Linked DNA regions of Homo sapiens: regions 2 and 3 are each linked to region 1. Evidence: fine-mapped expression QTL. A gene starts in region 1. Each other region holds a variant in brackets. All regions are shown on one strand. Distances are between the middles of the regions.

Region 1 (2,766 bases):
TGCTATCTAAAACTGTCCCATCAGCCCATTTACAGGGAGCACCTCCCCCATACCGCCCTAAAATCCTTTAAAAAATGGCTTTAGTCATTTTATCTGCCTTGCATTTAAGCGAATTCAGTTTAAGTGGCTTCAGTTCTGAATTCCTGGATTATATCGAAATGTTGCAGATGGCGGTGTGTGGGCTTTGAGCTCGTAAATTTTTTGTGTGGTACTAATTCAAGACGATTGAGAGCAGGTTGGGATCATTTTAAAAAGAGTTCTCGGCAGGGTGTGGTGACTCAAGCCTGTAATCCCAGCACTTTGGGAGGCCGAGGCGGGCGGATCGCTTAAGGTCAGGAGTTCGAGACTAGCCTGGCCAACATGGTGAAAACCCGTCTCTACTAAAAATACAAAAATTAGCCGGGCGTGGTGGCGTGCACCTGTAATTCCAGCTACTCGGGAGGCTGAGGCAGGAGAATCGCTTGAACCGGGAGGCAGAGGTTGCAGTGAGCTGAGATCGCGCCATTGCACTCCCGCCTGGGCGGCAAGAGCAAAACTCTGTCTCATTAAAAAAAAAAAAAAAAAAAAAAAAAAAAAAAAAAGGGTTCTCTAGTAGGAAGTCCCGAGTTGTATCCATGTTTTTCCGGGCGTCCCCCGGAGGGACAGGTTGCGGGTGACCTTTTCAAGTGTGGAGGAAAGGGAAGCTGCTTTTGTCTTCAGGAATGATGCAGGTCTCGACTCAAGCCTGACGGGCCCAAACCTCCCTGGAGCTGGCTGACGACTCTGCCCGAGTTCCTGAAGAGGGGTCCCGGGGGTCCCGGAGCGGAAGTGGGAGCGCGTGGGCGTGGGCTCCTCGGCTGCCTGGGGCTCCAGACTTGTGCTGCGTGCGGCTCCGGAGCTCTGTTCTCGCTCCTGAGCAGCTGCTAGGTTTCCCAAGCGACTGTCTCAACCGCCCGGCCGCCTCCCCCGGGCAGCCAGAGCTTCACATCTACCTCCAGCCGGGACCCGCCCCCGAGCCGCGGGGCCCACGCCCAGAGCCCTCCGCCGTCCCCAGCGCAGTGCAGCAGAGCGCGATCCAGTCTGGGGCCGGGCCGCGCTTCCGCGCACGCGCGGAGAAACCCGCGCCCTCCGAGGGGGGAGGGGACAGAGGGGGCGTCACGGGGGCAGGAGAAGAAGGAGGAGGAGGCCCGCGTCGCCTCCGGCGGGGCTCGCGCTCGCCCCGCGCTCGCCCTCCGCCTCGCCCGAGCCCCGGGAGGGTGAAACGCTTTCTCCCAGCATGCAGCGGGAGGAGGGATTTAACACCAAGATGGCGGACGGCCCGGATGAGTACGATACCGAAGCGGGCTGTGTGCCCCTTCTCCACCCAGAGGTGAGGAACCGTGCTGAGTGGATTCCTTGCCCTGCGGCCCTCCAGCCTTTCTTCCCCGGACTCGCCGAGGGCGGCGGCCGACGTGTGTGGGGTAGTGGGACGTGCCGAAGTTGGGGAGGGTGGGGAGGCGAATCCAGGCCTGAGCGCGGCTGCGAGCGGATAACGGGGGAGGAGATAGCGGGGCGGGCCCGACCGGGGCGGGCTCTGGGACGCAGTCCCTGGCTGTGCCTGGAGGACAGAGGTGGAGGTGTTGATGGTTCTGCTGTGTCGCCGCGCTGCGTTTGAGAGCAGAGGCGGAGGGGCCTGGTGTGGTTTTTGAACCGCAGCTTAGACCCTAGTCTTGCTCCAAGCCTCTTGGGGCCAGGTGGAAGCGCGTCTGGTTTTGATTTCTTTTTCCTTCGCCAGGGTGAATGACGGTATCTATTGCTTCCTTTTAGTCCACTGTGAGGGGACAGTTTCATGGGCATAGTGATGTCCTTCCAGGTAATGCCATGGGTAGCACCTCGGGCACCTTGTGTCGGGCGTCCTTTTTTGAGCATTTGTCCTTAAGCGATTAAGAAGAGAGGTAAAAACTTTTGGGAATAGACTTACACTCACATTAGCTTGTCAAAGTACCGTTTTTCTAGGAGCTAGGGGTGGACAGTGCAACACGTTTCCCATCACAACATGAGTGTCTTCCCATGTAAGTAAACAGTGCCCCGCTCCACAGTCAGTCAGTCTGTGCTTGTTTACCTCCGAGTTTGTAGCTGAGCTAGTGCTAGTTAAGGCTTGGAAGCAATTCTTGATGCATTCTGATTTTTAGTGATCCACAGTGATGTCTGTATGCGGCAGCGGCACAGTTTGCTGAAGAACTCGGGTAGTTTTCATGAGGTTAAAAGATGACAGTCGTGTTGTAGGATGAACAAACATGGAAGTCTCTACCTGGTTACTTTGCAATGGAGTGATTCTGTTTTTTTCTGGATTTGGGTTTGTACCATGCCACTAGTTTTTGTTAAAAAGTGAATAATGACAACCATCCTTTTATGTTGCATGTTAACACTCAACCACCCTCTCATTCGTCACTTTGGTTTATCAAAAACACATGGGACAGTTCCTTCGGAATATATACCTGTGCCAGTCTCAGTAGAAAAGGCTACTCTGGGTTTCTGATAAACAGAACTATACAGTAAGACTAAACACTTGTCTGACCAAAGTGGTAACATTTTCAGAACTGGCATTGTAGACATCTCTTTTGGTTCACTTAGGCCCTAACATACGTCAGGAAATAGACAAAGTAGTTTTCAGATGTTGCCTTGAAAATGTTGCTAAGTGATTTCTATTCATCTGTTCCTGTGAAAGTATTCGTGAAAGTATTTCAAACACTTAAGTGTTTATCCAGTTTATTTTTTTGAGACGGGGTTTCTCCCTGTCCCCCAGGC
Region 2 (2,766 bases), 55 kb after region 1:
GAATGTAACTTCCTTAACTATTATTGTAGTTCATGCGAATACTTTCCAGAGTCTACAGTGTCTATAATTGAGCTAATTATTGTACCTTAGAGCTTTTAAATTCATTTTTTTCCAGTTATTTTCTTTTTATTAATGTTTTAACTTTATCTGTCACATGTAATAGAGGTTGGCTATTGACAAAAAATTTTTCTCATGTAATTCCCTGGTAGCTTCTGGAGTGATGGTACTTCTAAAGAAAATAAAGTCTAAGGAATTATTGTATTTGCTCAGGGAACATTTATACTTTCAGGGGAAAAATTACCTGTATCTACACTGGTGACAAAGTAGATTTTTGTTTTAAAATGCACTTTATATGTAATTAAAAAGATGAAATGAGTATCAAATGCCTTTTTTAAAAATGGGGATCTGCCTCAGAGGCATTCCCAACATACTTAAGTCTTATCACCTTCTAATAGAAACCATGTATTTATTCGTTCAGCAAATTCTTATTCAATGGTGGGTGGTGGGGAGTCACATTGTTCAAGACAGATAAGGTCTCTATTCTTTCAGAATGTACATTCTGTTGAGGAAACAGCCAGTAAGTGAATAATAATAAAAGGCAAATGTGATAGAATGACTGGGATGGAAGGACCACATCCAGTGAGAGTGATTTGGGAATGCCTCTGAGGAGATGACATTTGCTTTCAGAATTACGTAATGAGAAGGGATCAGTTATACAGAGACATGTGGGAAAAAATTTTCCTTGTAGAGGAACATGCAAGTGCACGGTCCTAAACAGGAGTAAGATTGCAGTATTTGAGGTGCAGAAATAAGGACAGTGTGGCCAGAGTACAGTGAGCAAGATGGTGAAGTCACTTGAGAAACACAGGTGCTGTATCATGCAATGCGATAATAAAGAGCTTTAATTGTATTCTCAGTCATGGGAAACATTTGAAAGGATTTATGTAGGCTGATTATATGATCTGCTTTTTGTTTTAAATATTTTTTAAACATTACTTTGGTTGATGTATGGAGAATGCATTGAAGAGTTAAGAAAATGGAAAAGATGGAGATCAGTTAGGCTGTTGCAATAAATCAGACAAGTGATAATGTTAGCTTAGCCTAGGATCAGAGGAGTAGAGGTAGAGAGAAATGACTGGATTTGGAGAGGATATTTTAAAGTAGAAATAAGAAGGTAGATTAGGTGTGAGGATAAAAGAAACCATCGTTGATGACTTAGGTTTTGTTTTGGGTAACTGA[G/A]CGTCTTGTGATATCATATGTTGAGATTGTGAAGACTGAAGAAGGACTTTTTGGGATGAAGGTGATAGGAATTGGTTCTGTTTGGTAATATTTAATTTGAAGTGGTGTCTTAGCCGTGTGAACTATTAAGCTAATTAAGTAAACTTAAATTGCTGCCAATTTTGAAAAGGAAACATTTATTTTAAAAAAATACCTAGAATATTTGTCCAGGAATCTAACCAAATTTATTTATACCTATGCTTTTTCCATTTTTAAGTCTTAAGAAAGAATCTTGTTGATAATAGTGGATTGTAACGATAAGATGCAGCCTGCAAATCTGGCTATGGCTTTAATAGCTATAAAAAGTTATATTTTTCAAAGAATATGAAAAATTACGCTTTGTGTTATAATAATTCTATAAGATCCCCTTTCCCTAAAATACCTATTTTCTATATATGATTAAGTGTCTTAGAAATCTTTCTTTATATTAACTAGAGATTTACCTTCACATATTAGTTACTCAGTTCTTTTCATGTATAAACAAACGTTCCTTTATCAAAACAAGATAGAACTTATTTTAAAGACAATTTATACTAAATGAGGCCGGGCACTGTGGCTCATGCCTGTAATCCCAGCACTTTGGGAGGCTGAGGCAGGCGGATCACCTGAGGTCAGGAGTTCGAGACCAGCCTCAACATGGAGAAACCCTGTCTCTACTAAAAATACAAAATTAGCCGGGCGTGGTGGTACATGTCTGTAATCCCAGCTACTCGGGAGGCTGAGGCAGGAGAATTGCTTGAACCTGAGAGGTGGAGGTTGCAGTGAGCCAAGATCGTGCCATTGCACTCAAGCCTGGGCAACAAGAGTGAAACTATGTCTTAAAAAAAAAAAAAAAAAAAAGACAATTTATACTAAATGATAGGTAACTTTAAAATTGCTGTTTTCATCTCTGGAAGGATCAGGAATAGCTGTATACCCTAGGTTTTTTTATCTGGAGTCCCCCCAGTAGACTTTGGTTGGAGGAGGTGTGGGTCCATGGACCCCTGAAATTGTTGAAAAAAAGTTACTTGTATCAGCATTCTTCTGGGAGGAAGAAAAGTGGCTGTCATCAGAAAAGACTCAAAAGAATTTAAGAACCAAGCCCCTAGATAATAGCTACATGAAATAGCTTTAAATCTCTTCTTGTAAAGCAACAACAGGGGAAACAAATGATTTGGAATACTAAGAATAAAAAACAAAACACAATTATGGCCTACCCAGTAATCCCTTTTGTGGTAGTATCTCATTTGTGATTAAAAAAATAATAATCCTTAGCATATGTTTTTGGTTATACTGATAAATTTAGATGAATTGAGTTTGGAAGGAACAGTTAATCTCTGAGTGCTACACAAGCAGTTATAATCTTTTCTTTCTAAAATTATCAAAGGGCATAGTTTTTAGCTTGTACAGAATATAAAATTACTGAGCTCTGTTCATTAATGTATTGAAAGACCTCTTGAAATGAGGTAAGAAACTGTTTTTAGAAAATAGTTTTGTATTACCTCTTAA
Region 3 (2,766 bases), 100 kb after region 1:
AAGTGCTTTAAAGTCTGCATTTGTTTTCCCTTCTGTCCCAAAGGAGAATGCATTCTTTCTTGATGGATCTCTTGCCACAGGACATTTCCACGTGTCCCACTTCATAAAACTGCCAAATGTCATCGAGTTTCATCCAGACATTATTTCATTTTCTAAAACTTCAATTAAGCTTGAGAAAAAAGTAAATTGTGAGGAAACTCACTGGTAGCACAATCTGGCAGCTGGAAATCAAAGATCAGAATTTCTTCCCCTTATTTAAAAGACAATTGTATGATGATTCAGAGTAGAATGATGGTTACCAGAAGCTCGGAAGGGTAGGGTGTCGGGAAGGAAGTGAGGAGAGTTAATGGGTGTAAAAATATAGTTAGAATGAATAAGATCTAGTATTTGATAGCACAACAGGATGATTACTGTCAACAATCATTGTACATTTAAAAATAAGACAGTATTAACTGGAATGTTGGTAACAAAAAAATAATAAATGCTTGAGGTAATGGATACCCCATTTAAGATGATGTGATTAACATACATTGTATGCCTGTAGCAAAACATCTCATGTACCCCATAAATATATATACCTACTATGTACCCATAAAAATTAAAAGTAAGAAAAATAAAAGGGGGGGGGTTGAATAAAAAGGAAGGAGGACAAAAGGAAGGACAGCAAAGAGGAGGGGAGGGAAGCAGGACTAGCTGGCTGGTTTAAAATTTAGTCTATTATCTTAAACTAAAGTCTTCTATGGTAGAATGAAATGGCATCTACTCTGGAATCTAACTGTTGAGGCTCAAGTGCTGAAATACATGTGCCTAAAGATAACTATATCTTAAACCATAGTTAACCTAACACCATGCACTGCTGAAGGACAACTACCCTTAACAGAGAGAATAAATGTAAATACTGTTTTGAAAAACCTGTATGAACCAAAACAAGTGTAGGTATATGAAAGTGTTACTATATAACCACCCCTTTCTTCCCCAGTCCTCATGCTGTTCTCTGCAGTAAAATTCTCATAGGTCTGCAAACTACTCTGAATTATTTCCTTAAAAGGCATTAGTCAGCAGAGACAGATATTAGAAAGGATTCGTAGAAATGACCAGTAGAGAACTTGACATTTAGTAAAACAAATGTCAACAGCATACACGCATATGTTACTATGGTGTAGACATTGTGGCTTAACCTAGACAGATGAAACTGAGAGCAATTTCTAAAGTATTTGCATTCTGTTTCCATACTTTCTTGGTTACAAGCCTGCTGAAAAATAGATTCCTTTTTTAAAAAAGTAACTTCTAAAAGCAATGGTTAAACCAAGTCTTCTGAGGAAGGCATACATAGTGAACATTCCTATGTAGTATTTTTATTTTTTTGTAACTGCAACTTTCTGTTGTCTGCTTCTGGTTGTCTGCAAAGCAGTTTAGTTATGCTATTAAAGAGGTCCAGATACCTTGAATGCTGGCTCCAATGAGGGAAAAGGACAATTCAAATTTGAGAAAGAAGTCTTTTCCTGAAGATTATTTCTCAATGTAACCTATTTTTAACCTATGGTTTTCTGTAGGAATTTTCCCTGTACAATACTATTGATAAGGCAAACATCTGCCCGTATGGGTGG[G/T]TTTACCTGACATAATCATTCATTAAAGAAAATTCTGTCATTAAATCAGAAGATGATTAATGAAGTGCTTTAAGTTGCTACTCTACAGTTTTAAAACCGAAGACTTTGTTGTCATTAAAGGGAACCTGAGAAAGAGAAAGCTGGGGTGGATGAGGAGCAATCATTTACTCAAAAATGGGAGCTAAGCCCTTGTAATGTGCCAGAAACTGTGCTAGGTGCCAGACCACATAAGTGACACCCAGCACTCAGTGAGGTGGGGGAGGCAGATGTGTTAACAAAATAAAGGCCAAAATGGAGGCCAAAAGCTATGGGGACACAAAGGGAGGCTGGGTGTCTTGGGCCACCCCTCCTGTCTTCGCTGCTAGGCTTGGCATTTACAACATCTAAGAAGACAGGTAAAAACCATTCGTGCTTTCAAAATGATCTTTGTTGGCAAAACCACAATTTTTCCTTAAATAGACATATTGAAGCTCTGTACATACAAATTCCGTCAAAGGTGGAGCATGGAGAGCTACTTACTGCAGAGAAAGCAGCAGCGGTGGAAGCTCCTGCCATCACACTGCACCTCTTCTGCGTGGTACACGGTCCTCCCACAGGCCCCACACTTGTTTCCACCTCCCCAGACAGGCATTCTGAAGGAATAAAGGATTCATTAGAATGTCCCTGTGCTGGTCGTACGGCTCCCTAGAGGGCTATTTAAGCCCAGGGACAGCTGCAGATTTTCGTTTCTTTATGAACCTCTCTAACCACATCTTTCAAAGGCCTGCGTTCCTCCAAAATAACCTCATCTCCTCTCCCAAATAACAACTCTTTCATTAGGAAACTGGCTTGTCGTGCACAAGATTTTTTTTTTTTCCTGCCAGACAAAGGACCTGCATTCAGTACAATAGTACAGGTCACCAGGCACAAAACAAGCTATGCCATTAGAATCCACAGGAGTTAAGAAAGAAGCGTGGGGAGGGGAAAGGCAAGCCTTGTCCCCCTCCCTAATATGCCCATTTTTAATAAACATATTTTTTTGAACTCAGCTGAAGATCTTACCCTTGGGTGGAGGTTTTCATTACATGTTTAATTAATTGTAACAACACTAAATTCTTAACGTTTAACATATATAAGCTATAACACGCTTTCTAGGGAACAAAGTGTGTTGCCCTGCAAG

Evidence for each region. PIP is the estimated chance that this variant, and not a neighbour inherited with it, causes the effect.
Region 2: its variant is the best candidate, but not a certain one, in a credible set for the expression of ZDHHC17 in whole blood (INTERVAL, PIP 0.57).
Region 3: its variant is the best candidate, but not a certain one, in a credible set for the expression of ZDHHC17 in whole blood (INTERVAL, PIP 0.74).

Annotation. Positions count from the first base shown.
Region 1 is chr12:76,762,982-76,765,747 of GRCh38, forward strand. It overlaps ZDHHC17 (zDHHC palmitoyltransferase 17), which reads left to right and starts at 1,134. Exons shown (of 17, transcript NM_015336.4): 1 at 1,134-1,348. The coding sequence starts at 1,256. RefSeq lists enhancers at 632-731, 1,028-1,322, 1,298-2,140, 1,332-1,481 and a silencer at 872-1,281.
Region 2 is chr12:76,817,896-76,820,661 of GRCh38, forward strand. All of the region lies in intron 7 of ZDHHC17 (zDHHC palmitoyltransferase 17), which reads left to right. Among named protein-coding and RNA genes, the nearest start is that of ZDHHC17, 55 kb to the left of the region's middle. The variant G/A (reference allele first, on the strand shown) is at 1,240.
Region 3 is chr12:76,864,023-76,866,788 of GRCh38, forward strand. It overlaps CSRP2 (cysteine and glycine rich protein 2), which reads right to left. Exons shown (of 6, transcript NM_001321.3): 2 at 2,127-2,239. The coding sequence starts at 2,238. Among named protein-coding and RNA genes, the nearest start is that of CSRP2, 14 kb to the right of the region's middle. RefSeq lists a silencer at 1,125-1,234. The variant G/T (reference allele first, on the strand shown) is at 1,608.